Linked DNA regions of Homo sapiens. The protein of the gene in region 7 purifies or fractionates together with the protein of the main gene of each other region. This does not show direct contact. Each region holds a gene or a part of one and is shown on either strand. Other genes may lie near its edges. The genes, in order: MOB2, CBS, LSM14A, MTPN, CSRP2, ELMO2 and ARHGAP11B.

Region 1 (4,135 bases), on a different chromosome or scaffold from region 7:
AACATGGGCCTCAGCCTGGCCCTTAGGGGCTGGGCCTCCCCTACACCATCTGGGAACCCCAGGACAGTGGGGATACGTGCGTCCTCTACATCATTCTCGAGGAGCAGATGCTGAAAGGACTGTTGTCTCTGCATTCTCAGAGGGTCTGACAGCCTGGTGGCGATGCCCACGGTGAGGCCTGCAGCCTGGGAAGGTGGGCGTGAAGGTCATGCAGAGCTGTCCCAGGGGGAGGACAGCACCTGAGAGGCAGGTGTGGGCACTGCATCCCCGTCCTCATGGCCTGTCCATTTTGGGGCTGCACTTCCCCTTCGGGTGGGCTGAGTCAGCCCCGCACAGGGCACACATGAGAGCTCCTGGTTTGCATTCTGGAGGTGGGTGCTGGGAGGGGGTTGTCCTAGGGCCCTGGTGGTGCTGGGAGGTGGCCTGATGGCTGTTTCTGTTGCAGAGGGCAGGGTGCCAGCATGCAGGGCTTGCAGTGTCATCCTCTAGCTTCTTGGTAACTCTGGTGACTCCCCCCGGGATCTGCAGTGCACAGGCTGAGGGGCTTCTTGGACACAGCAGAGGGGTGCCCAGAGACGCTGGAGGCCCTGTGCCCAGAGATGCTGGAGGCCCTGTGCCCGGAGACGCTGGAGGCCCTGTGCCCGGAGACACTGGAGGCCCTGTGCCCAGCTGGGAGGATGGCTTCTCTGGCTGCGCAGGAAGTGGGCGAGCCCCCCGTGGCCCTGTCTCAGCCCTTGGGGCGTCTCCCCAGGTGCCTTGGTGGGCTCTGGAACCCAGGGCACGATGCTTGGAGCTGGCCAAGAGAAGAGTGGCCTCCAGAGTGGAGCCTGGGTCCATCCTTTTCAGCACTGCCCCACCCAGGGCCATTCCAAGAGGAACCGTGACTGGATGAGGAGGGTGGGAGCGGTTCATGTGGAGCCTGGTACTGGCAGACTGCCTGTTGGTCTAGCTGGGGCAGTGGAGGCGATGGTGGTTGTGGCCATGGTGTGGAGGGGGCGTTTGCTCAGTGGCCAGTACTGCTCTGTGCTGTGTGGCCCATTCCCACCTGTGGTGAGCTGGGAGCTGGCTCTCAGGGAGGAAATCCCGACCCATAGTGTTGGCTGTGTCTCAGGTGTGAGCACTCCCACCACAGCACTCTCCACTGCCTGTGGGTGGGGCTGCGGCATCGGCCCCAGCATGCCCTGGTTCAGGCCTGCGGGGGCGGCCGCTGTGGGCATGGCCTTGGAGGACTGAGACCCAGCACCGTGGCAGGGGGAGAGGGGTGGTGGCTGCCAGGTGGGTGCCCTGGGTTTTGGTGTTGTGCTGGGGGAGGAGGGGTGTTAGGGGCTGGGGGTCACCTTATATTAACATGAACTAGAGCACACCCTTGTCATGGCTGGACCCAACAGTAAGAGGCAAACCCAGGGTGTCCATGTCCCTAGGATGCTCCAGCCTGCTCTGGGGCCACGAGTCTCACATGAGGACTGGCCGCCCTTGTGTACAGGGGCAAGAGGGGGCCAGGTCCCTGTCCTGGCCAGGCTGTTAGCCGCAGGTACCCACAGAGACCACCGCCCTCCTCTGCTTTCCCCGGAGAGGGGCTTGGCTTCTAGCAGTCAGAGCAGGGCTCTCCCAAAGGGTGGGGCCTGGCCGGCGAGCCACAGCACAGCTTCCTGGGAAGAGAAGGAGCCTCTGTGTGCTTTCAAAATACAACAGAAAAACAGCAGCACGCACTTGTGTAAACGAATACAACTGAAGCCATGTAGAAGCGGAGAAAACGAAGATGACCCCTTCATTTAATCACACACCTGTACAGCCATGTGGCTGGCAGGCTCCCCAGCGTGATCCTGGCGTAGTTCTAAGTCAGCGCAGGCAGACCCCTCCATAGAGTGCAGTGTGGTCCCCGCAGACAGTGTGTGGGGACAGTGTGCATGTCCAGGGAGGGAGACACCTGGGTCTGCCACACCTCCGCTGCTGGCGCCACCTCTGCCCGCAGATGACCTGAGCGGGTGGGACCCAGTGGCTGGGTGGGTGTGCAGCGGGCGCATGCCCTGACCGTGTCTCTGTCTCCACAGACAGTACTACTGGTATGACGAGCGGGGGAAGAAGGTCAAGTGCACGGCCCCACAGTACGTTGACTTCGTCATGAGCTCCGTGCAGAAGCTGGTGACGGATGAGGACGTGTTCCCCACAAAATACGGTTCGTCTCCCCCAGCACTGGGCGGTCATCCTCACAGTGGGGCAGGGAGCATTCAGGACGTGTCTGCAAGTGACCAAGCTCCTGTGCCGGGAGGGGCAGAGGCACGGAGGGCGGCAGCTGCACCACCCCAGTCCCTGCTTAGCATGGAGCCACCTGGGCTGTGGGGTGAGGCCGGAGCCCTTGGGCAGGGGTCAGCCCAGCCAGGGCCAAGGGCCATCTCCCTGGCCCTCTGGGCCATGCGGCTGCACTGGGCCCCTCTTGGTTTCTGCCGCTCATGCTGCTCTCACCGTCCAGCTTGTGGGCACTTGGGCTGGGTATCAGCCGCCAAGCCTGTGTCCAGATTTTGGTGGGATGTGGTGGGGCTCCACGCCACTCCCGTGCTGCCAGAGGGACGGCAGGGGACAACAGGAGAGGCCTGTGCCACCATCGCCACCTCCGTCCTGGCCCGGGAGATGGCCCCAAGTGTCCATCAGGGAGACACCACGGGGGCCCGAGTGCCCGATCACAGGCCCCTTCCTGAGGAGGTGGCCAGGATGGCCCAACGAGCTCCCAGCCCTCAGGGCAGGTGCAGCCTCCGGAGCCTGAGCACGCAGGGAGGTCTCAGCAGCCCAGACCCGGGGTTGGCAAGTCCCTGTGGTGCCTGCTGATGGGCAGAAGCTGTTGCTGCTGGGGCTTTGTAGGCCCTGAGGGTGGCAGGGTCAAGGTGTGGGTGGCAGGTACCAGACCCACCAGGCTGGGTGCCAGGGGCCTGGCCTCTGTTGGGGCCAAGGGATGTCTGCAGCTTGTGACACGGTGGCCTTCCCCAGGCAGAGAATTCCCCAGCTCCTTTGAGTCCCTGGTGAGGAAGATCTGCAGACACCTGTTCCACGTGCTGGCACACATCTACTGGGCCCACTTCAAGGAGACGCTGGCCCTGGAGCTGCACGGACACTTGAACACGCTCTACGTCCACTTCATCCTCTTTGCTCGGGAGTTCAACCTGCTGGACCCCAAAGAGACCGCCATCATGGACGACCTCACCGAGGTGCTATGCAGCGGGGCCGGCGGGGTCCACAGTGGGGGCAGTGGGGATGGGGCCGGCAGCGGGGGCCCGGGAGCACAGAACCACGTGAAGGAGAGATGAGCCCCCCGGGCCGGACAGGGGCACACGTGTGCAAAGAGACGGTGGTGTGTGTTCTCTCCTGCATCTGCGTGTGCACACATGTGCTGGGCACGCGTGTGGTGAGGTCTGAGAGGGCCCCGGGCTGCACTGGTGTGGGCTGCACAGGCACAGACGCAGACGGCCCCGGCCGTGTCCTGTGGCCCCCTGTCGGATGGATGCGTGCCGTTTGTAGAGAAGAGCCTTTGGGCCCATTCACTCGTTCAGCAGACACGCATGGGACTGATGCTTTGAGTTTTCTTCTGTGGGGTTTTCCTTTCTCTGGTCTCCGTGCAGCCCCTGCCCTCCCTCGGGTGCTGCTGGCCTCAAAGGAGGAACTCGTGGGGGGAGGGTGTGATTTGCAGACCTGGGTCTCTGCTCTGCTCTGGGGGTGGGGCTTGCTTTCACAGAGACCCTCCTTCCCTCTCACCCCTCCTCTCCCGGCCTCGCCAGGAGTCTTGGCTGTTGGCAGCTCAGAGGTGGGGGAGGCCTGTGGTGTGAGGTGCCCTGCACCTGCTCCTGCTCCTGTCACCCCTTCCTGCTGCCTCCTCCATGCCCAAGGAACACCCATGGTGCAGTCCTCAGGCAAGGCCAGGACGGGGCTGAGGCCCTGCGTGGAGATGCTGCACCAGCGGAAGGCTGAGACCCGCTTACCTTAGTTCATCTGTTCACTCGTAATAAAAAGAATTCTCTCAGGTCAGAGCCTGTGTACGTCTCAGCGTCTCGGTGACCGCCCCCCCCCCACACTGTGGGCATCCCGGCCACTTGCTTGGTGGGCAGCCCCAGGAGCAGGCACCCCGGAGGCTGCCCCGAGAGTGGGG
Region 2 (3,707 bases), on a different chromosome or scaffold from region 7:
TGGGGAAACGGAGGCACAGCAACTGTTGGAGAAGGGAGCCCTGGGAGCCCTGAGTGCCGCAGGCTTCTGTGGCCCTGGCAGCTCGGCCCAGAGTCAATGGACTAGGGCCAGCCAGGGGACTTTCCGACAAGGGCCAGCTGGTGGTATTTTAGGTCTTGGGGGCCGTGCCGTCTCTGTTATGAGCACGCAGCCCTGACGTGCTTGAAAGCAGCCACAGACGGTGGTGACAAGCGTGGACATGCTCCAGGAAGACTTGATTTGGGGACCCTGACATTGGAATTTGCATCTTTTTTTTTTTCTGAGATGTTCAAACACAAGTAAATGTGAGATTAAGAGGGGGATCCCTCCTACCCAAGCTTGGGGGTGGGTCCAGGACCCTGGAAGGCCTCCATTTGCCATGGGGAGGCTGTGAATCTGAGCCTGAGAGCCATTCTGAGGGGTGGGTGATACCTACCTGCAGGCCCCCCCACCACGCCTGCCCAGGCCTGGTCCTGCGCTGCAGAGCCAAGGACGGGAGATGGGGTTAGACTTGGGGCCCTCACGGACCAGCCTCAGCCACCGAGCGCTCACCCCCTGCACACAGGCCTGGTGGGTGGGCAGGCTCCAGGCTCCAGGGCCCCTCCCAACTCTTCCTGTGGGCCCCAGGCCCAGGGCTGCCATCTATGACCCAAAACCTGCGAGCGACTCTCCTGGCCTGTGGGGATGTGGTGGGGACGCCCGGGGATGCGCTCAGGAGTTGCAAAACCTCATGAGCTTGCTGGGAGCGGGGCTCTGAGGACAGCCCATCAGTGGCTCCTGTGAGACCCACATGAGGCTTCCATTCAGAGCAGCCCTCCGAATGCCAGGGTCAGGACTTGAAACCCTTCTAGATGTTTCTGGGCTTGTCCCTGAGAATCCCCAAGACTGCTGGCCTCCCCGGAGGCAAGGGGCCTGGACTCCTGAGCCTCTGCATGCTGGACAAAGGGCCCTACCCAGTGTGGCCTGATGAGGGGTCCCTGCAGGAATCACAGGTACAGCCCACCAGCCCAGGGCATGTGGGAGGCCCAGGCATAAAGACTGGGTGTCACTGAAGGTCGGCACCACCCACTCCCCTAACACCCCGCAGGGGATGGGGGGCCCAGCTGCTGCCCATGGCAGAGGCCAGGCTTGGTGGCCTGACCCCAGTGAGAACCCCACGCACAGAGCAGGGCCCCACTCACACTGGATCTGCTCGTGCACCACCAGGGCGAAGTGGTCCATCTCCAGGATGTGCGAGAGCCTGCCCAGCGTGTCCGTGAGGCGGATCTGCAAGGGAAGCGTGGTCAGTGGCAGGGGGAACATGGCCCCACGAGTTTTCTGTGGAGTGAGAGGGGATGCGATGGTGGGTCCTGCAAAGCCCACCCGGGAGGCAGTGGCAGCCGAACGTGGGAAATACGTGGATTCGGGTGACGTCTCGGGTGTGTGTGTGAGATGGGAAAGAAGTCGAATTCACTCCTAGGTTTGGGCAGAACCCTCAGCCTTTCCAGTGTCAAGAGCCACACCTGCATGTCCCAGGGGATCCGTGTGGAAGGTCACACAAACTTTCCTGGGCCACCCTCAGGGCAGCAGAGGGTGGGTGTCTCAGGACAACCACGGAGTCTGACCAGCCCGGCAAGGAGCCACCGTGGGCTTCTCCCAGAATGTTCTAGCTCTTGTTGGATAACCAAGTGCATGCACAGGCAAATGAGGCTGGGCAGGAGAAAGACCCCGGCAGACGCCGCATGGTGCCCGGGACAGCCTCTGAGCGCGAATGACCTCCTTAAGTCCCCAAAACACGGCTGGTGTGGATGAGCCTGCACTGATGAGAGCCTGCTCTCCGGCTGCTGCACTTGTAAAGTGGGTGCTTCTCAGCTTCATGGTTTGAGGGGTGCAGCCAGCTTCGGCCTAAGTGGTGTTGAGGGTCGAGGACCCAGCACCCCCACACGGGAAGCGCGGTGTCCCGCCTTCGAGGCTGGAGTACTCTGGCACCCTCTGGGGTCCCGAAGTGCCTGAGTACCTGTTTGAGCCGCGTGTAGGTGACTGCGCACCTGTTTGAACTGCGTGTAGGTGACCGCGCACCTGTTTGAGCTGCCTGTAGCTGACCGGGCACCTGTTTGAGCTGCCTGTAGGTGACCGCGCACCTGTTTGAGCTGCCTGTAGGTGACTGGGCACCCGTTTGAGCTGCCTGTAGGTGACCGCGCACCCGTTTGAGCTGCCTGTAGGTGACCGGGCACCCGTTTGAGCTGCCTGTAGGTGACCGGGCACCCGTTTGAGCTGCCTGTAGGTGACTGGGCACCCGTTTGAGCTGCCTGTAGGTGACCGCGCACCCGCTTGAGCTGCCTGTAGCTGACCGCGCACCTGTTTGAGCTGCCTGTAGGTGACCGGGTACCTGTTTGAGCTGCCTGTAGGTGACCGCTCACCTGTTTGAGCTGCCTGTAGGTGACCGCGCACCTGTTTGAGCTGCGTGTAGGTGACCGGGCACCTGTTTGAGCTGCCTGTAGGTGACTGCGCATCTGTTTGAGCTGCCTGTAGGTGACTGGGTACCTGTTTGAACTGCTTGTAGATGACTTTGCCAACTTGGTCTGACGGCTGCACCTTCCCGGCAAGCAGGGACGAGAGCATGTTCCCAAGCGTCACCATTCCCAGGATTACCCTGTGGGACGGGGGCAGGCAGGGGTCAGCGCTCATACCTCACCCCTCCCAGGACGGTGGGGCACACGCTCAGCTGCCCCAGGGAGGAGCGCTCTCTGGCCACACATGGAAGTCCTCTGCCACGAGCCTACACGCGGCAGGAACCAGTCTGGGCCCTGGTGGGGAGAAAGAAACCAAGAGTCCTTGGACCCGTTCAGCCAGGGTCAAGGGTGACCAGCCGTCAGGTTTCCGCGACGTGGGGCTCTCAGTGGTCACTGGGCATGTGTGCCAAGGCTTTCTGCTGTCAGACATGTCCTCGGGGCATCTCTCCCCTGACCTCCAGGTGGGCCCAGGACAGCCTGCACACAAAGGGTGGGTGGGCTGAGGTCTGAGGGCCTGGAGTGAGCACGGCAGCCCTGCCCCAGGCTGCTCAGGGACCGGCAAGGGGCCTCCAATGCCCTGAACGTCTGTATGAGGCGGCCCAGGCGGGCCTATCAGCCCAGCTGCAGGGTCTGCATGGCTGCCCTGTCCAGTGACACTGACGGGGTGGAGCTGGGCAGACAGAACCCAGGACTGAGCTCTGAGCAGGGGCTGAGACTGACCCCGCCTCATCCACCACGGGCGCCTGGTCGAAGCCCTTCTCCCGGAGGATCTCGATGGTGTGCCCACAGGTGATGGTCGGGAGCACGGTCAGCGGGGCTGACAGGCCCAGCTCCTGAACACGGAGGTGCCACCACCTGAGGGAAGAGGGCAGGTCGGGGGGATCAGGATAAGGACAAACGCTCTCGCACCCCCGCCGGCAGCACCTCAGCAGGAGGCCACAGGGACCGCTCTCCTGCCTGTCACACTGGGCAGGGCCAGCACAGGCCACGGGGACCGCTCTCCTGCCTGTCACACTGGGCAGGGCCAGCACAGGCCACGGGGGAGTGCTCTCCTGCCTGTCACACTGGGCAGGGCCAGCACAGGCAGCGGGTCTCCGGCCGAGCGGTCTTACCAGGGCTTCTTCTCCGTGAGGTCCTCCTCCTTCAGAAAGCCCTTCTGCAGCATCCACCTGTCGCTCAGGAACTTGGTCCTGCGGG
Region 3 (3,277 bases), on a different chromosome or scaffold from region 7:
TACAATCTCAGCTGGGCGTGGTGGCTCACACCTATAATCCCAGCACTTTGGGAGGCTGAGGTGGGCGGATCACCTGAGGTCAGGAGTTCGAGACCAGCCTGGCTAACATGGTGAAACCCCGTCTCTACCAAAAACATAAAAAAAATTAGCCGGGCGTGGTGGCACACACCTGTAATCCCAGCTACTCGGGAGGCTGAGGCAGGAGAATCATTGAACCTGGGAGGCAGAGGTTGCAGTGAGCCGAGATCACGCCACTGTACTCCAGCCTGGGCGACAGAGCAAGACTCCGTCTCAAAAAAAGGAAAAAACAAACCTTCCATGCAGTAACTGTGTGTGCTCCATGTGGTTACTAATACAAACATTTTTTTGACACCATGTCACACTGTTTATCATTTTGAGCCTTTTGTAAAACTCGTATCACATATATTGCAGAATTGAAAATGCATTGTCATAGTTACCTCCATGCATCTTTGTCTACGCTCCTGTATCCTTGACAGATAGTCCAGCCTCTGCTTAGGTGTTGCCAGGAGTGATGGACTCAGCGAACCCTCAGGCATGGCCCAGTGTTTAGGAGGCTCAGTTGTGACATTGTAGTCCCTGCTCTTCTTAATTGTGTGAGGATCCCACTTGATATATTTGGCCTCATTCCTCATTACCCTTTAACCTATCTGATTCAAGCAAGCTGCCTCATGGTTATCTCACATACACATTGTGCTTGATTCCAACTCCATCCCCATTCATTTACCAAATATACAGAATTCTTCAGATATGCCAGGCACTATGTTGAGCATTGGTGCTGACCGATGTAGGCCCAGCCCTTTTGATGTTTACATTTTGGTGGGAGACAGACATAGCTAAAAGTCAGGTCCCCCCTTTCACTTATCCTTTACAGCCTTGCCCAAGTTTTGCTCTGTCTTCTCTTCCTTCCTACACTGATTTCCTCCTCTTCTGACCTGTGGCTATCTGCTTTCTTTGGCACACATTTTAAATACACTGACATTCCCTATTTTTTGTATTTAGTTTTGTTCTGCATCACCAGCTAGATGAGAACCTCTTGGCTTTAGTGAATATGTATTCTACTTTTCTTTCCATGACAACACTCAGCTCAACATGGAGCCATAGTGGGCTTGAAGTAATTGCTTGTCATGTTGATTAGGAATTTGCCACTCCAGCCTTCAGTGAGACCAAAGGTCTGTCAATGTAGCTAGCCTTTGATTGTTCATTCCAGAGTTGAATAATCCTTTCATCTGCCACTAGAGCCCCGAACCCAGCAGCCCTACACCTCCTAAATCATAAAATCATTTCACCTGGCACCTTTAAAGGTAGAAAATGGTGAGTGATCACTGTCACATAAAGGAGATTTACCACTGAAGATTAAACTTGTATCTGAAACATCTAACACTTCCTCCCAGAGATGGACATGGATGACATTTCTGCAGCCTTCATGAAATGAGTTGGCTTTATTTTTTGTGCTATATTAGCATGAGTCATTGTGGTTTGGGGGTAAGCATAAATGAGCTTGGTTGTTTAATGAAAACATGGGTAAAGATAAAATCATAAAGTTTTAGAATCCTTAAAAGAATCAGCCAAACTAGAATCTCTACGCTACCACACTCACATTAGATGATAAGGAAACTAAGGACCCCAAGAAGTTAATTGTCATGATTGAGGTACAAGCTAACAAATCCAAAACTCACTCTCTTGACTTGTGGCCTGATTTTCCTTAAGGGTAATATTGTAAATATAGGCCAGTGCAATGGTGTACACATGTAATACCAGCATTTTGGGAGGCCAGGGCAGGATTGCTTAAGCCCAGGAATTCAAGGACAGCATGGGCAACATAAGGAGTCCCTATCTCTATAAAAAAGTTTAAAAATTAGCTGGAGTGGTGGCACATGCCTGTAGTCCCAGCTACTCAGGAGGCTAAGGCAGGAGGATCAGTTGAACCTGGGAGGTCAAGGCTGCAGTGAGCCATGATCGCACCACTGCACTCCAGCCTGGGTGACAGAGCGAGGCCTGTCTCAAAAAAAAAAAAGAAAAGAAAGAAATATAACCTTATGGTAAGTTTGGTTGTATGGTGTTTTCCCCCTCCCACCGCCCATTCTTTTTTGAGGTGAGAATGGAAATCAGGACTAGCAATAATAATGTAACCAGCTCCTGTTTTATATGCTGCTGTCAGGGAGGTTAAGCCACCATGGTGGGTGATAAAAATCACATCTGTGTTTCCTCAGATGGGGTTCAAAGACAACAAGGTGTCTGAATGACTCAGCATAATGCTCTCTCTCCTCTCCCCCTTTCATTTTCTCCTTTCTCCCTCTCCTGTCCCCATCTCTTTCTCTTTTTTTTTTTTTTTTTTTTTTTACCTTTCAGAAAACCACAGCTTTTGGACCCTAAAAGGTCTGGATTGATCGTACTGCTTTCTGAAAGGTAAAAAAAACAAATACTTTGGGAGGTGTGAAGGTTGGCTTTGTGGGGGACAGCAGGTTCATCTTGTAGCTCATTGCTGTCAACTTATGCCATACCATATGTATTTCAGTTTAATAACGGGGTGCAAATGTTTTGGTGTTGTATACACAGATGAAGTTAAGTCTCACCTAGGAAATGTCTGTTTCTAACAGTTGGGGTGAGAATCAGCAGTAAAAACCAGGTATATGGTAGCAGCTGGTCTAGAGGAAAATAAAAGCCCTTGGCTCCAGCCCTTTGTACAGGCCTTTAGTTTAGGGTCAGTCTCTCTGGAAATCTTGAGATTTTTATTGCTTCCTCACTGGTTACTTTTTAAAAATTCCCCAGTCAGCTTTCTACTTTTCAGAGCTTATTTCAGATTTAAGAGTTATCCTTGTAAAATTGATTTTTAAACCATTGCTTCCTCCTGGCATGAAATTTTGGAGAGAAATGTTATACTGACTGGGTATTTTATTGCTTAGTAAAGACATCAAAGACTTGGGGATTTTATGAAACTTGTTTCAAAGTATGTTGACAGTTGTATTTGATGAGTTTGACTATTGAGTTGAGGGTTTAAGTCCTATCACTGCTTTTAAAAAATTATTAGGGAGAACAACCAAAGATGAGGAAGTATGCCTGTATTTTGGGGTGGGGTTCACCACTGCATTAACCTCTACTGACTGGAAGATGCAGTCAACAATGAGGTACTACTGAGTATGGAAGTTATAGAAGGAGTTTCGTGGAAATGAGTGAGACAGGTTTTTCTATGAAAGTAAAAGTGGGGGAGTATATTTAAAGATAATTTAAAATAAACTTGAGCAAAGTAAAAAGAAAA
Region 4 (4,135 bases), on a different chromosome or scaffold from region 7:
AGGAAAATGTTTAGAATCTCAAACCAAAACACTTTATATAGCCTATGTACATCTGAATGAACATTTATGTTCCAATGTAAAAAAAGATCTTCCTCTATTTTATATATTTTTTAAAATGACTAAAAGCATTAATAATTAGAAAAGAATCTATACTAATGTTTCTCTGTCTACTGAGGGCACCTGTATCTTATACAAGCTGACATATGCTTTCTGAATAGGTCACCAGCCCTTCTGTAGAAAGGGCAACACACAGTGATACATTTTTATAAGAAAGAAACTAATAATTTAAAGAAGAAAAAAAAGGGAAGCTGCCTAAAACCAATAAATGCAAAGTAGATTGAATCAGGACCTCTTTTAAATTGGCTATTTTATTAGGAAAGTGAAAAGTGATCTCAATGAGTCTTGGAATTTCTAAAGATTAGAGTTGATATCTTTCTCAGGTTCAAGAGATTCTATCCTTTCACATGGTGCACAATTGTTGCTTTTCAAACCTATTAGAGTGTCAACGGCAGATGTAATTAGAATGGAGGCTGGAGGGAAAGGAAACCACAGAGAAAGGGAAGTTAGAGACCAGGCTTCTATTTCACAGCAAGTGAAATAGAAGTACATGTAAACAAGAGAGTACATGTATCAGACCTGCTGAAGATTAAAAGGGGCTATTTATCAATGCAACTCACAAGCACTCACCTGTAAGCATGTTGGATCCTCAAAATCCACCAGAAAGCTCACCTTTTAGTAGTCTCAATGGATAATTACCATCCTGCTATGATTATTTTTACTATTTACTCAATAATATAGTACCCCCCTAGTTTCTGGCCTTATTGAGAAATGAAGGTCAAGGGTATGCTGAAGTAGTTAACAGCATGGGGCTTTTGAAACTCCTTCAGAACCCAAGGAAGTGAGTTCACATCTCAGCTTCACCACTTAAGAACTTTATGATCTTGAGCAAGTTATTTAATCTCTGCCTCTAAAATCTCTAAAATGGGGTTAACATTATTAATAATGCTCATGGCTTACTGTTGATAAGTAAATGAAATAATACCTGTATACTGCATCACAATCCTCAAATACATAAAATTTAATAAACATACTTTTTTCAAAATGTTACTTGTTTTATTTAAATAATTATGAATAGAAATCTCAATAATTTAGTTATTTTTGTTTCTTCCTAAGGCAAACAAACAAAATTTAACTTTTTCTGGACTGTGTAGGATCACAATTAGGAACATAAATTATAAGGTTAGATTATATGTGACCATAAATACAAAACATTCTGCAGGCTATCAGTCACTCTTATGGACACGTCTTGAGTAATGACAGTCTCTGATGAGAGTTTAAGTTTACAGAGATGTTTGTCTCTATACTAATTATTTCTGAATTGTTACATTTACAATTTTTAAAATACGGTTGCCATTTTTGTCTTCATTCACAGTCAGAGCTAATTAGTTGTACCGGCTTCTTACAAGCCTCTTTCTCGTTTTCTTAATTCTAAAGTGTTGTTAGCAAAAAAAAAAACCACTTTTAAAGCAAACTGATATGGTTATAAATACACACGCGCACACGCGCACGCGCGCGCACACACACACACACACACACACACACACCCCATGTAGATTCAGACAGTTCTGGGTTTAAAATCCAGTTATGCTACTTAGTTTGTGACCTTGTCAAGTTACTTCAGTTCTCTAAGCCTCAGGTTCTTCATCCTTAAAATAAGATTATTACTTATACTGAAACACTGTGGTAAGAAGCAAATAAAAACTTAGGTAAAACATCTTGCAGAGTGCTTTCCAGTACCTGACAATGTAAGTCATCCAGTCAATGGTAATTATTATTCTGTAATTAATGAAGTATGCTGAAATTATTGCTAAGTTAAGAATAAAATGAATTTCTTACCAGAAACATGATTTTAATGTGTAAAATTCCTTGGCGCTATGTTGGAGACAGAAAGATGAAAAAGAATATATTATCTACCCTCCAGGAGTTCAGAGCCTAATGAAGACACATGTAAACAAAATCACAGCAATCTGATGAGCAAAACAGTAAAAGAAGCAGCACTCTATGTGAAGTCAATCTTTTTCAGCCAGTCTCCCTCACTGCCCTTAAAATATTAATACTTTTGTGATTTCTCATTGCTTATTTTAAAAGGGCCAACTCCTCATCGGTATGGTGTTTTTCTGTTAGAGGTGATACTTACCCTAGGAGGGTAAATAGGAGTTTAACAGGTTGGGGGTTAGGGATTGAGGTGAGCAGACTTGGTCAGGGAGGATGAAAGAACACATGTAAAGATCTACAAGGAAGAAACAGGATGGCAGGGTCTGGAGCAGAGTGCTTAGAGAGAGGCAAGTGTAGAAAAGCAAGCCCAGATAATAGTGGCCTAGTACACCATACCAATGAGGAGCTGGCCCTTTTAAAATAAGCAGTGAGAAATCACAAAAGTATTAATATTTTAAGGGCAGTGCAGGAGACTGGCTGAAAAAGATTACATGCTTATATTCATGTTATTGAGAGATCCCTCCACCTAAACTGTGTAAACTGACCAGGAAGGGGTCAATTTTTGCTGCTTCTTTCCAGCCTGGACTATATATTCTTTCTTGACTATTTTCTTATAGTCAAGAAAGAAAATATAGTCCAGGCTGGAAAGAAGCAGCAACTGATCTAAAGTAGTAAGAAGAAAGGAGAGTGAGGAATGGATGAGGGAGACTAAGAAGGTAGTCTTGGTAACCCTCAGAAATCTAGGAAAATTTCCCAGTTTCCAGTTTGGACAAATGGTTGGGTCATGATACCATTAGTGAAAATGGAGACACAATAGGAATAAAAACAGTTTTTGAGAGGAAAACAGCTCAATTTGGAATTTGTCTGAACAGAGCTTATGCAGTCTGAAATTCAGGTGAGGCTAGAATTAACTCCAACAGGAGAACATAAAGGCAGAAATGTAAGACAAAGTCAAAAATAATGTCACCCAAAAGAAACATCCAGATCAAAAATGGGGCTATGAATATCTCTTATAGCTGCTCATGAATACCTTATTTTCTGGCTTTCACTTGTTTTCCAGCCGGACAACTGAATTTTATGAAAATGAGATGTTATTTATAATTTGCATACTACTATAAAAGTATGAATTTTTTTTCACGCAGGTCTGCTAAATATAGATGCTTACGTTTCCTGAAAACTGTGTCGAACTTCTGTACTATCATCCCAGGACTACTAAAGAGTTTAAGACCTGAAAGATGCCTAGTAAAAATGAATGAATTAACTAAATGTGGTCCTTAAGTCAGTCAAGAAGCCAAATGTAGTGTTGAAAGACTTTAAAATTGCTTCAGATATTGTCTTAAAGTTATACATGAAACATTTAATGTAATAATCTAAATTTTTCTCTAAATAATCTAAATTTTTCTCTCAATACTGTCTTTTCCATTTCAAAATACAATTTTCAGTGGTTTGGGGACTGTGAACTGACTTTTCTAAGTTCAAGAACTCACCTAAAACCAATGATTTAGGGATACTCACACTTCGAACTTTAATAGAGAAGTCAGAGGCAGGTAGAAAAGTGTAATTACTGACTTTTAAAAATACTAATTTATAAAGGAAAAACGGGTTCACACCTGTGAACCAGTGCTTTCACACCTGTAATCCCAGTGCTTTGGGAGGCCGAGGCCAGAAGATCGCTTGAGGCTAGGAGTTTGAGACCAGCCTGTACAACAAAGTGAGATCCAGTCTCTACAAAAAATAAAATTTGCTGGGTGTCGTGGTGTACATCTATGGTCCCAGCTGCTCAGGAGGCTGAAGTTACAGTGAGCTATGATCACGACACTGCACTCTAGCCTGGGCGACAAAGCAAAGACCCTGTCTCCGAAAAACAAAAACAAAAAAACCCTGTTTCCAAAAAAAAGAGGAGGAGGAGGGGAATACTAAAATGCTTATCTTACTCTTACAGGTAGATTCTTAGGTTAACAATATGAGAGATCTTCACAGGAATGTTGAGGAGAGTTTTTAAAATAGACTCTCACCCCTGAGAATGAAGACTAGACAGGTCTAAGTGTTTCTTTAGTATTTTCTTTGTACACACCTACTCAGATAGATGCACATTACAGAAACTCAAAAAGTGAGTGTTCACAAATTGGTAGATGAAAAA
Region 5 (4,446 bases), on a different chromosome or scaffold from region 7:
TGAGTAGCTGGGATTACAGGCGTGCACCACCACACCGGGCTAATTTTTGTATTTTTGGTAGAGGCGGGGTCTCACCATATTGGCCAGGCTGGTCCTGAACTCCTGGCCTCAAGTGATCTACTTATCTCGGCCTCCCAAAGTGCATGGAATAACAGGCATGAGCCACCGTGCCCAACCTGGAATTTCCTCCTAACTCCTACTTTTAACCCAGTGATTCCACTATTTGAACTTCACATTTTCACATCCATTTTATATTGAGAAGTCCAAAATTGGTGTAATAGTCCAACAAAATGGCCTTTGGACAAGACCATAAACCATGCCAGCCACCGTGCAGCATTAGCATATGTTAACTCGTGTAATCCTCACAACAGTCCTACAACATAGGGCTTCCTCTCTTTCTTCAGAACAGATGAAGACAAGAAAAATTAAGTAAAAACTTTGCCCAAAGTCACACTGTTAGTTAATTGTAGAGCCTGGAACTTAACCTAGTCTAACTCCAAACCTTATGACCTGAATGAAACGTGGTGCTTGGCTTGGCTAAAATAATAATTACCATGTATTGAGTCCCTGTTGTCTGTTGAACATTTATCTTCATTCTGTATAATCCTTAGAGTAACTCTGAGGTATACTTTGTCCATTTATAGATGACGACACTAAGAGTCGGGTCACACAAATAAGTGAGGGAGCCAGGATTTGAATCAATGTCCATTTGGTTCCAAAATCTGTTCTCTTCCTACTGCAGTATGTACTACATTGAGGCTCACCTCTGTGTTCTTTGAGCTTCTTCCACCCTCAGAGTTTCTGGGCCATGATGCCCAGCTTACCTTTTTATCTTTGTTAAAATTTATTTTACTTGTTCTGCTCTCCTTTTCCATCTTGTTACATCTATTTTTGTGTTTTAAAGGTTTTGTTGAAAACCTTTCAAAATCCATATCCCCTCACTCAACCTGCATCTCCCTCAATCCAAACCAGATTTATCCATGACCCCAAAAGTAAGTCAGTGACTATGGCCATAGTTTTAAAGCACAAAGACCAGTGAACCCTCCTTTTTTTAAAAAAAAAAAAAAATATATATATATATATATAGACAGGGTCTTGCTATGTTGCCTAGGCTGGCCTCGAACTCCTGAGTTCAAGTTATCCTTCCACATTGGCCTCCCAAAGTGCTAGGAAGACATTGTTTTTCCAGTAGGAAAAATTAACAGTTGTGGAGTGCTATCATTTTATCTGCTCAGCTAATTTATAAGGTTCTAAGAGGGCTTAAAAAAAAAAAAGTCTTCTCAAAGCCCGAGAATGTTCTGCACATACTAGGTACACCTTACTGAATGGAAACAGTTCCTACTGATAGCAAGAAATATGGTTTACTCAGTGATCTGTAAATAGTGACAAAAATACCACCCTTACCAGAGAAAAATGAAAGATAAACAGATTGCATAGTAATAATCAAAATTTATAAAATATTTTTCCATGAAGAAAGTTGGCTATTCACACTTTCCTTTATTCAAGATATACTGGGAGACTAAGTAATCTATAAAACATGCTTAAATTTCTTAGTTACAGACCAAAGTTAACTTACCTATTTGTGGAATTTTTAAACTACTTAATAGTGGTTTTTCCGACTCCTGTGAAGTAAAAAGCTAGGTATGATTCCAGTGATATTATTCTGGAGTAAAAATATATGCTCTGGTAAGTTTTTATAAACCGTAACATAATTGCTTAGTGGAGAGGCCAACACTGAGGAGTAAATGAATTCTGTTTAGACTCAGAGGGACAGATCTTTACGTTTGGGTCCCTATCTGGTTTTTTGAAATAATAATGAGCCCATAGATAGGTTCAAGTAGTAACTCTGGCTGGCACCTGAGTCACTTCTTCTTTATTCCCTCCCCTGTGCTGGCCTGCAAAGGCTTCCAGCTTTGAGGCAGTGTAGCGGTTAAGTCCCAGAGTTCTATTGTTCCTGCCTTGTGTACTTAAAAGGGCCCTGTGGAAACTCTTGCCTACTTTTTTTTTCCTCTTTTCACAAGTGTTCAGCCTCACAGGCCTACAACAAATCCAAACACTTCTAAATTTGCTCAGAAATATGGAGGTGCTGAGAAGTGTTCCAGATGTGGGGATTCTGTATATGCTGCCGAGAAGATAATTGGAGCTGGAAAGGTAAAGTGCTATTTGGAATTAATAACAGCAAATGACTTCTCTCTGCTCCCTTTCTCCCCTAACCCTTCCACATTCCTTGCTTGGGTGATGTCTTACAAATCACTGTCTTATATGAAACTTTTCTTTAAATGCATTTCCATCAGAATCATTAACTTTTTTGAAGTGATTCCCTTATTTGACAAGTCATTTTTCTGTTTAAAAGAACTTGTTTTCATAGGGGGCACTCCTGAAGGTTAAACTTTAAAAGGCCAGACTGTAAGGGAATCTCCAGGTTATTCAGTATAGTGAAAAAAGCAGGAATCCGAGTCAGGACACCTGATGCGAATTCAGTGTGTGGATTTGGAAAAGTTACCAGCTAACCTCTTTGAGCTGCGCTGTTCTTGGCCAGAAAAAAGATGGTCTCTTTAAAGGAGCAGACTGGGCTTGTGGTTAGGACTGAGGCTGCTCTTAGGGAAACAGCCTTTCTGTGGGTGATCAAGAGTGCAGATACTGAGGACTGGTTTCAGCCTTCTCATTGGAGCTGAACCACAGAAGTCAGGAGCTTGCTTTGAGATGATCATCCTGAGCCACTTCTTGCCATACATCTAAATTGAACTGTAGGAAACAGGCCTCTCAAACATGCTGACACATTCATCTCTTCCAGCCCTGGCACAAAAACTGTTTCCGATGTGCAAAGTGTGGGAAGAGTCTTGAATCAACAACTCTGACTGAAAAAGAAGGTGAAATCTATTGTAAAGGTAAAATTCATTTCAGTTACTGCTGTCCATATGAATATTCCACACTGGTTCTTGTTTAATGAAATGTCACTGGCATTAAAAAAAAAAAAAGAAAAGTATGCCACTATTTTCTGAAAATAAAATATCCCAAGATGCTTATAGATGACAGAGAACCACAGTTAAGTTCCTGATCATTTAAAACTCCCCACCAGATAAAAACACCACAAATAGCCATCTTTTGCCTTCATGTCTTGAGCAAAGCGTAAGTATATGGAAGAAAACAGACAAATACATACCTTACCTGGCCTGACTCATGCTTGCAACTCAGCAGGACCACGCTGAACACTATAGGGCCAGAATGTGTGGACTTGTCTTTGCAGCTTTAAGATATTTAGTACATGACACATTTAACATCTTAAATAAGTTGAGCTCTTTTACACAGCAGTTTAATTTATGGGGGTTTGTTGAGTGGGTCTTAAGCAGTGCTAGCAAAGCTTAATGGACTTGCACTAACTATCCTTCCTCCCTTTCCTTTGTAGGATGCTATGCAAAGAACTTTGGGCCCAAGGGATTTGGCTATGGCCAAGGAGCAGGGGCTCTTGTTCATGCCCAGTAAGATGTAAACCCTGAACTAAACATCACACACTGAGAATCTCTTCATAATCTAGGCACAGATAATCTTTAACACTAAACTACTGTGAAATTCTACCAGCATTAAGTACTGTATATCGCCCTGTACTTGGATAGGCTGGCTAACTCGTAGGAAGAGAGCACTGTATGGTATCCTTTTGCTTTATTCACCAGCATTTTGGGGGAACATTTCTTTTACATTTTAAATAAAACTTCAGCTTGATTTGGGTGTTCATTGTCTTTTAATTAATCTTTTGGAGGAGATGCTCTGATTTCAGTTAGTGGAAAGTCATTTGGTTCCCTACCTTTGTTACCCCATTACCCAGCTGACTCACTAGGTTCATGTTTGCATTACAGCTGTTGAAAAGGATCTCTCTTTCAAGCAGGCAAGTGTGCCTTAAGAGTAAAGGTTGCAGGCCGGGCGCGGTAGCTTACGCCTGTAATCCCAGCACTTTGGGAGGCCGAGATGGGCAGATCACGAGGTCAGGAGATCGAGACCATCCTGGCTAACACGGTGAAACACCGTCTCTACTAAAACTACAAAAAAATTAGCCAGGCGTAGTGGCGGGCGTCTGTAGTCCCAGCTACTCGGGAGGCTGAGGCAGGAGAATGGCGTGAACCCGGGAGGTGGAGCTTGCAGTGAGCCGAGATCGTGCCATTGCACTCCAGCCTGGGCAACAGAGCGAGACTCCGTCTCAAAAAAAAAAAAAAAAAAAAAAAAAAAAGGTTGCTAGGCAACAGGCATCATTATTTCAGCTCCTCAAAGCTGGTGTTCAGCAGTGCAGCATCTCCTCCTTTCCCTCCCCACCGTACTCTTAAGTAAGTTCTTTTGATTATACCTAAAATTCAGTACAAACAAACACCTATGGGCAATTATAGAATCAGAGACTTAGTATGATTCTTTTTAAAGACTCTACACTGTGATCTAATAGATGGTGACCTACTAAGT
Region 6 (4,135 bases), on a different chromosome or scaffold from region 7:
ACAGTACTGCTGAGTGGCGGAGCAAGAGGCTATTTATAACCCTGAGAATTTTGCAATGTTACTGAATTCCTTTGACCTAATTTCTACTTCCTTTCTAGAATGAAAATGAAGGGAGTAAGCAAACACGTGCTGGAAGGGTTCCCTATAAGGAGATCCTTTATCCTGGGAATATTATCTGGAGAACAGAATTATTTCTAGTCTCCTATCTCCTGATGTTTCTTTTCGATAGGGAGAAAAGCAGAGGGAGGTTTTCCTCTTTCTTTCAACTAGAGTTAGGGGTGCTAACCCTGATTTTTCAGTAAGACTTATTCTAATGTTTGATATGAAAACAACAGTTTTTTATTTTATTTTTATTTTTTAATAGAGACAGGATCTCACTTTGTCACCCAGGCTAGAGTTCAGTGACATGATCATAGTTCACTGCAGCCTCGAACTCCTGGGCTCAAGCAACTCTCCTGCCTCAGCCTCCTGAGTAGCTAGGGACTACAGGCACACGCCACCATGCCCAGCTAATTTTTATTTTTTGTAGAGAAATGTCTCGAACTCCTGGCCTGAAGTGATCCTCCTGCCTTGACCTCCCAAAGCATTGGGATTACAGGTGTGAGCCACTGCGCCCAGCCAAAACAAACTGTTAAACAATGGAAATACTGTGTAGTTAGAGGGTATTGGGACGCAGAGGGAACACCAGACAGCCTGCACAGTTCATGCCTGTCCCTGTCTGTTTGGAGCCAGCCTGGTTCACAGGAGTGGAAGAAATCAGAGCCATTGGGTTTAAGCAGACACAGGTGCTTACTGAGCCTTCACTGGACACCAAGTGCTGTGCTAGGTTATGAGACTGCAGAGTTATACCTGTTCTGGAGGAGGAGCTAGTGGAGATGTGTAAATATGTAACTGTAATAGAGTATGACAAAATCGTACTCATTAACGGAAGTATGAACAGGATGCTGTGAGAACACAGAGGCCCCTGTCCTATTTACTTTTGCCAGGGAAAGTAGAGAAAGCTAAGACTAGTACAAGGAGGAGGTAACATCCGAACTAGGCTCTGATGCTTGAATAGGAGCTCTTCTGACAGTCAGTAGGAGGAAGAGAATGTGCAAAGGTACAGAAGAATTGAAAGAACATGGCCTGCCTTATAGAAATAGCCCGTAGTCCAGGATGGCTAGATTGTAAAGGACCAAATAGCACACGAGGGAGTGTGGCCCACCTGTAGACAGTGGAGAGCTGTCTTCTGTTACAATGGTGAGTTCTTGCTGTGAAGGTTTCTTAGCCTCAGTGTGCTTTGGTTTCAGATACACAAACCAGAAATCTCCACAAAGCACCTGCTGCGGGTCAGGTGCAGAGCCACCTGCTTTCTCATGGCTTTCCAGCAACACCAGACAACCTGGTATCAAATTCTGGCTGTGCCACTTGCTAGCTATGTGACACTGAGCCTTCTACTTAACTCCTCTGTGCCTCCATTTTCTTATCTCTAAGGTGGGGATAATAACATACCACACAGCATTGCTGTGTGGATTAAATGAATTAATATATGTAAAGCCCTTAAAATAGTGCCTTAGCATTATGTAATTGCTAGCTAATGTCATCATCTAAGGAAGTATTATATAGAGCGATGAGAACTCGCTTTGGAGTCCTAAGACCTAGGCTTGAGACCCAGTTCTGATGTGTTGGGTTGATTTAGTTTTATTTCTTTTCCCTCCCTTCATTTTTTTTCTTTCCTTCCTTCTTTTAGGAGGGAGGTGTAGAAAGAGGTACATGGAGAACAAGTTTGTCAATCCGTCTGAACTTCAGTTGCCTTACCTGTAAGGTAGGAATGTTTTTCAGAGTTCTTATGAGCATCAACTATAATAATGATATAGAAGTGAGCAATCAACTATAAAGAGGCTACCTGGGCTGGGCACAGTGGCTCACGCCTGTAATCCCAGCACTTTGAGAGGCCGAGGCAGATGGATCACCTGAGGTCAGGAGTTCAAGACCAGCCTGGCCAACATGGTGAAACCCCGTCTCTACTAAAAATACAAAAATTAGCTGGGCGTGGTGGTGAGTATCTGTAATTCCAGCTACTCAGGAAGCTGAGGCAGGAGAATCGCTTGAACCCAGGAGACAGAGGTTGAAGTGAGCTGAAATCATGCCATTGCACTTCAGCCTAGGCGACAAGAGCAAGACTCCATCTTTTAAAAAAAATTTAAAAAAATAAAAATAAAGAGGCTACCTGTACGTTACTACTAGATATATGATTACTATGAAGTTACCATATAACCGATCTGTTTCAAACAAATCAGACTTATCTAGTGGGTAAGAGCAAACCCATGGGTTTTGCTCTCATTAATTCAGCCATTGTTAATTAAGTGCTTACCCAGTACCATCATCATATGCTAGTGATGCTGCTGTCTGCTCAGACCTCCGTTTTAGAGTTCCTGCAGAGCTTGGGGGCAGCTGTGGTCTTAGGCGTATTAGTTGCAATGAGTAGAAACATAGACTAGCTTAATTTATAGGAGTTTTATTGGCAGGATACAGTGGACTTTCAGGTACCCCGAGCATAGGAAGTAATAGCCACATAATCTGGAAAGTTAGCAGGTAATGGCTTTTCCATCTCTTTCTGATTTCTGGCCTCAGTTCATTTAGATATTTATGGATTCCTCCTGCAGAATCACTTCCTCTGAAAGGCTCTTGGTTTTTTATTCTCCATATCTTTGGCTCGTACGGATCTTTGGCTTGCCATGGTATTCGCTCTGAAGCTTACTATGATCTTACTTCTCCAGGGTCATTATCACCCAGTTCCCTTAGTCTGTGTCTTTTATTTGTTTGTATGTATGTATGTGTGTATTTATTTATGATGGAGTCTCATTCCGTCGCCCAGGCTGGAGCGTAATGGTGCAATCTGTGCTCACTGAAACCTCCGCCTCCTGGGTTCAAGCTGTCCTCCCTGCCTCAGTCTCCCGAGTAGTTGGGATTACAGGCGCCCACCATCATGCCTGGCTACTTTTTGTATTTTTACTAGAGACGGGGTTTTGCCATGTTGGCCAGGGTGGTCTCAAACTCCTGACCTCAGGCGATCCACCCACCTTGGCCTCCCAAAGTGCTGCGATTATAGACATGAGCCACCACGCCCAGCCAGTCTCTGTCTTTTAAATTCAAGAGAAAGAACTGGAATAGTTCAGCTAAAGTTGGGTATTCACTTTAGTCCCATCAGCTATGGCAGGGTTGTGGAGAGTGTCATTCAGTTCAGAGAGGCTGCCTGGGCTTTGTGGGAAGGACAGAGTCACTGAGAATGGGGGCTTATTAATATCTTTCAAATAGTTTGGTGGTTGCAAATCTCCATGCTTTAAAATGTATACGAATTTTTGAACAGCCGAGAATCATTCAGGGCTAACTTTAATAAAGAGAGAGTCAATCTAGGATATGTCATATGGGGTCAAGAGAAAATAATAGCTATAACCTAATGAGCTTTAGCTTAATCTCCAAAGACGGCGTTCAGAAAGGAGTTAAAAATCATGGGGTTTGTTTCTTAGCAGCACCATCGAAATTAAGGAAGGGTGTAACTTCATTTGGTAAGGACTTTAAAATGGGCATCCTCACTTGGATTTTTTAAATTCCACTTAAGAATCATGGACTTTTAGACTTAGAAGGCACCTGAGACATGCTTTAGTTCTACACTCACATCTTTCAATAGAAGAAAACTGAGATTTGGTTAAAGGGCCATGTATACATTGTGAAAGACCTAGGATTGGGTCCTGAGGCCTTTGGTTCTAAATCCAGTCACTTGTTTCAGCAGGGACAATTATCCCAGCCCAGTGTTCTTTCTGTTGTACCTTCTGTGCCTGCTTATTTTAAAAATAAGAAGAAGCCAAACTAAACAAATGATCTAAAAAGTCATATCGTATAGTTCCATTTATATGAAGTACAAAACCAGGCAAAACTCATGGATGATGATAAGTCAGAAATTCCCCTTTAAAGGACTGGAAGGATTGACGGGAAGAGGAAGTATGAAGTAATTTTCTAGGGTGATGAAAATGTTCAGTGTCTCGTTTTGAGTGCTGGTTACAGGGAGATGCATGTGTATATTTATATGATGTATATTTATATATACAAACATATGTACCCTTAAGCCCTCTGCATTTTATTGTATGTAAATTAT
Region 7 (4,188 bases):
GATGGTCCCACTCAGCCATCCACCTATACTTTCTACAAAGTCAATTTATACTGATTCTTCAGATCAGTTAATCACTGGTACGTTTCCCCTCCCCGGTCAAGGATCTTTTATTATACGCTATCATAGAATCATATTCCTTTCCTTAGCGCACTTCTCTCAACTGATAAGTGCCGCCATTAATGTACTTACTTGATAAATATATGCCTGCCTTTCCTCTTCCAGGGCCGAAACTGTGCCTGGTTTTGCTCATCATTCTACAGTATATAGCACGAGTTCAATAAACAGTTGTTAAAGCAACATATTTAACTTACATTTTGTTCCCATCTCTTCACTCAGAGACTTTTCTTTGGATTGGGAAGGGTAAAATATCCGAAGATTTGAACTCCAAAAGAAACAAAATGATTCTATGCAAACGTTTCCTACTTAAAACTCATTCATTGGGCAAATATTCACTTAGTCCCTGGCACTATTTGGTAATAGGAATACAGGAGTGCATATGGCAGATAAAGTTCTGTTGCTGCCCTTACCAAGTTTCGTGGGGGTGAGATGTGGTGTTAGTAAATGCATACTATTTTGTCTGTATTTAAATCGAGTCCAAATCTCTCGCTCTACAGCCCGCCTTGGGATGTTTCTTATATCCCAAGAAACAGAATATTTTGATGGGATCGCTGATGTTTCAGACTGCAAAAGCAGCTCAGGGCGTTTGCAGTCGTGCAAGTCAACAAGATAACCGTCTGGACCGGAAGCTGGGCTCCTCCCGGTCTCCTAACTCCAAATCCAACACCAAGCTTCTGCAGCTGCCACCTCCCGTAGACTTCGCATTTCTTCCGCACTCTCCTCTCACGACGGGTCTTCTTTGTTGTACTTAATTTCCTACGCAATAAGATTTCAGCATCACCATCAGTCCCCCAAAGACTAATTCCCACAGAGCCGAAGTTCCCACCAAAGGCCGAGGGTTAAGGTTACTAAAATCAGCGTTTCTGAATCCTGTCTCAAGTTGTCTCAACTGGGCTTCCGTAGAACGGTTTCTTCGTAAGAGGGCCTTCAGCGACAGCCGAGCTCGGAAAAGAACGGGAATAAGTTGTCTCTTACATTTCCTCAAATACTGTGAATGGTCTGAGGCGCAGGTCAGGTGTATTTAAAAACCTTTAAACAGTATTCCCCCGCCCCAAAAACTGGCCTTGAAGGAACAAGTGAAACTCATCCTGCTTTTCATGTTTGCTGGGTTTGCCCGTTACACCCCTTCGCCCGCACCTATCTAGACAGGCAGCTCTCGGCCACCCTCCGGGGTCCTGATTTTGAAAAGAGGAGTGGACCAATCAGATGTGGAGCGCTGTTTGGCGCTGCCATTTGAGCCTGGGCTGAAACTGCGGGTGTGACCCCCCCGTGGTGGCTCCGGGTGTCTGCAGTGGAGCTGGGGGCGGAAGCATGAGGCTAACGGCTTGGCTTCAGTGAACGCACCGGGATGTGCAGGCCGGGAGGTAGAGGCAGGCTGATGGGGGAGGGAACGAGCAGCCTGTGAGACGGGGTGACGGCGGCTACCAGCCCGGGCGGGCACCGGGACTGGAAGAGTTGCCTGAGCAGCCGGCTGGTCCGGCGGCCAGGCTAGGGCGGGGGCGAGCGCCCAGTTGAGCCTGCTGGGGCTGGAGGAGCGAGAAGGGTTCTCTTCACATTTCAGAGCGAACCAGACGGACAGTAAGGTTTGGAGGAAGGGGGATCGTTGGAAGTAGCAGGAAGTGGAGAGAATCTGGCAATAGGCGAGAAACCGAAAGAATCAGAAAGAAGTCTATGTGAGTAGCTGAAAGCATTGGGTGACCAGAAAGAAGGTCGCTGTAAGTGAAGGAAGAGTGAGGTGTGGCTGGATCAAAGGGCTAAGAGAAGCGGGTCTGTGTAAGTGGATGTGAGTGAGGATCAAGGAAAAGCCGTGGAAGTGGCCGGGGGTCGGGGCCGCAGAAGTGCCAGACGGGGCCGGAAAGCAGCCGAGCGGAGTTCAAATTTGAGAGCGTTTGGAAATTGGAAGACTTGGTGGCGAACGAGGGTCAGGACCTGCATCCTGCCTCAGAGTTATCGACGTATCCGGAATGTGGGATCAGAGGCTGGTGAAGTTGGCCCTGTTGCAGCATCTGCGGGCCTTCTATGGTATTAAGGTGAAGGGTGTCCGTGGGCAGTGCGATCGCAGGAGACATGAAACAGCAGCCACGGAAATAGGGGTAAGTTCTGTGAAAAGGGATTTAGGTTTAAAAGAAAGGGCACACCCTTTATCATCACTTATTAGCAGATCGTGCTAAAATGTTCACTCTGTGTATCAAAAAGAATGGTTAGGTGTGTAATTCAGTTCAGATGATCGATTGCTGATATTTAAAAAGTGACATTCTTGTTTTTTTTTTCCCCAAGGATTTTTGATCATTGAGAGAAAGTTGCAGGATTTTCCAACTTCAGCACTATTGACATTTTGGATTAGATAATTTTTGTTAGGGGAAGACGAAATGCTGTTCTGTGAATTGTGGGATGTTTAGCGGGATGTCTGTCTTTTACCCACTAGATGCTGGTAGCATCTCTCAGTTGTGACGATTAAAAATGTCTCCGGATATTGCCAGCTTACTGTATTTGGAACAGGTAGTACGTTGGGAGGGACAAAAACTCTACCCCTCCACCCTTGTTTTAGAGTAAGGTTGTAGAGGGACAAGGGAGACCAGTGCATTTTCTACATGAATCTGTAGATGAAGTATGACAGAACATTAGAAATAGGCTTCAAATGATGACTGCATATTCACTAATTTGGGAAACAGATTTGCTGCTTGGCCATATCATACTTTTGGGACAGCAATTTTTTTTTTTGTATGAGTAAATTGAGAAGCCAGAGTGGAATAATTGAGAAGTTGTTGATGTTTTGGTGGTTGAAATAAAGGGATTTTGAATGAGATTTTAATAGCTCTGCCACATAATCAGGAATTGCATTGTGAAAAATAAGCTGAATGTAAAGCATTTTATTTTAAATTTATGTGCCTAATTTATATGGTACTTCCTAGTACTTGGAGACAAGCTAATAAAGTTAATATACGTTGCTTTTAATAGTTTATGGTTTCTAAAAAAAAGTGCTTGGAGAAGAAAACCACTAACAAAAGTAATATGTGTGTCTCTTAATCGCTGATAAACTTTGGAGAAGTTATTTTTGTTGGTAGCAAATTAATGGCAATACATGTACTTACATTTAAAAAGCTACAGTGATTTTTTTCTGATTGTAAAACTGGCTTTCCAAGATCTCAAATGTAGCTGATTTTGTAAGTATATGGAAGAGTTTGTATATGGACTTTTTTTCACCCCTTTTCTTTTCTTTTCCTTTTTTTTTTTTTGTTTTTGAGATGGAGTCTCCCTCTGTCGCCCAGGCTGGAGTGCAGTGGCGCGATCTTGGCTCACTGCAAGCTCCGCCTCCCGGGTTCACGCCATTCTCCTGCCTCAGCTTCCCGAGTAGCTGGAACTACAGGCGTCCGCCACCACACCTGGCTAATTTTTTGTATTTTTTAGTAGAGACGGGGTTTCACTGTGTTAGCCAGGATGGTCTCGATCTCCTGCCCTCGTGATCCGCCCGCCTCGGCCTCCCAAAGTGGTGGGATTGCAGGCGTGAGCCACTGCACCTGTCCTTTTCACCCCTTAACAAGAAAAACTGTTGCCTGTTTTCAGAGTCGGATAGACCTGAGTTTGAGTGCTGTTCCACCCCTACTACATCTGTAAACTTGGGCTGCTTGTTTGATTTCCCTAAGCTTCAGTTTTATATCTATAAAGTGGGAACGTATTTCTCCTTGGATTATTTAGGGATTTTTAAAAAGTGAAGCTCTTTATGTAGGCCTAGCACAGTGCGTGTCACATGCCACTTCATCTAATGATAGTTGTCATATCATTGGTCTGCCTCCTAATTGGTAATCACGCCATATAAATTCAGCTAGAAACACTTATAAGAATATTCTAATGAAGAAATGTAGAAGATCATTGTGTTATGAGATCTAATGGGATAGTTTGTTTGAAAACAATTTCTTTAGCCGACTGGTGTTTGTTAGCTAACTGTAGTTTTAAGTTTTAAAAACATTTTATGAGATTAAATTTTAGTGGTTACTTGTGAAGCCAGTTATTCTAAATAATAAGACTTAAGGAAAAAAACACGCTGAATTCTAGTTATATATAACAGAAGTA

What was found.
Region 1: the proteins of ARHGAP11B (region 7) and MOB2 purify together in Homo sapiens (affinity purification with mass spectrometry; one large-scale study listed by BioGRID and IntAct). This does not show direct contact.
Region 2: the proteins of ARHGAP11B (region 7) and CBS purify together in Homo sapiens (affinity purification with mass spectrometry, with the first as the bait; one large-scale study listed by BioGRID). This does not show direct contact.
Region 3: the proteins of ARHGAP11B (region 7) and LSM14A purify together in Homo sapiens (affinity purification with mass spectrometry; one large-scale study listed by BioGRID and IntAct). This does not show direct contact.
Region 4: the proteins of ARHGAP11B (region 7) and MTPN purify together in Homo sapiens (affinity purification with mass spectrometry; one large-scale study listed by BioGRID and IntAct). This does not show direct contact.
Region 5: the proteins of ARHGAP11B (region 7) and CSRP2 purify together in Homo sapiens (affinity purification with mass spectrometry; one large-scale study listed by BioGRID and IntAct). This does not show direct contact.
Region 6: the proteins of ARHGAP11B (region 7) and ELMO2 purify together in Homo sapiens (affinity purification with mass spectrometry, with the first as the bait; one large-scale study listed by BioGRID). This does not show direct contact.

Annotation. Positions count from the first base shown.
Region 1 is NC_000011.10:1,469,336-1,473,470, reverse strand, and holds the end of MOB2 (MOB kinase activator 2), read left to right. Parts: intron 1-2,051; coding exon 2,052-2,176; intron 2,177-2,982; coding exon 2,983-3,299; 3' UTR 3,300-4,014; downstream 4,015-4,135. UniProt on the Homo sapiens protein: Stimulates the autophosphorylation and kinase activity of STK38 and STK38L.
Region 2 is NC_000021.9:43,055,604-43,059,310, forward strand, and holds part of CBS (cystathionine beta-synthase), read right to left. Parts: intron 3,701-3,707; coding exon 3,623-3,700; intron 3,366-3,622; coding exon 3,231-3,365; intron 2,805-3,230; exon of another isoform or gene 2,688-2,804; intron 2,651-2,687; coding exon 2,542-2,650; intron 1,285-2,541; coding exon 1,200-1,284; intron 497-1,199; coding exon of another isoform or gene 455-496; intron 1-454. UniProt on the Homo sapiens protein: Hydro-lyase catalyzing the first step of the transsulfuration pathway, where the hydroxyl group of L-serine is displaced by L-homocysteine in a beta-replacement reaction to form L-cystathionine, the precursor of L-cysteine.
Region 3 is NC_000019.10:34,224,038-34,227,314, forward strand, and holds part of LSM14A (protein LSM14 homolog A), read left to right. Parts: exon of another isoform or gene 1-2,370; coding exon of another isoform or gene 2,371-2,394; exon of another isoform or gene 2,395-2,427; intron 2,428-3,277. UniProt on the Homo sapiens protein: Essential for formation of P-bodies, cytoplasmic structures that provide storage sites for translationally inactive mRNAs and protect them from degradation. Acts as a repressor of mRNA translation. May play a role in mitotic spindle assembly.
Region 4 is NC_000007.14:135,970,657-135,974,791, forward strand, and holds part of MTPN (myotrophin), read right to left. Parts: intron 1-4,135. UniProt on the Homo sapiens protein: Promotes dimerization of NF-kappa-B subunits and regulates NF-kappa-B transcription factor activity. Plays a role in the regulation of the growth of actin filaments.
Region 5 is NC_000012.12:76,857,989-76,862,434, reverse strand, and holds the end of CSRP2 (cysteine and glycine-rich protein 2), read left to right. Parts: intron 1-2,021; coding exon 2,022-2,151; intron 2,152-2,794; coding exon 2,795-2,888; intron 2,889-3,406; coding exon 3,407-3,483; 3' UTR 3,484-3,726; downstream 3,727-4,446.
Region 6 is NC_000020.11:46,396,366-46,400,500, reverse strand, and holds part of ELMO2 (engulfment and cell motility protein 2), read left to right. Parts: intron 1-1,729; 5' UTR 1,730-1,804; intron 1,805-2,481; exon of another isoform or gene 2,482-4,135. UniProt on the Homo sapiens protein: Involved in cytoskeletal rearrangements required for phagocytosis of apoptotic cells and cell motility. Acts in association with DOCK1 and CRK. Was initially proposed to be required in complex with DOCK1 to activate Rac Rho small GTPases.
Region 7 is NC_000015.10:30,624,740-30,628,927, forward strand, and holds the start of ARHGAP11B (inactive Rho GTPase-activating protein 11B), read left to right. Parts: upstream 1-1,388; 5' UTR 1,389-2,081; coding exon 2,082-2,210; intron 2,211-4,188.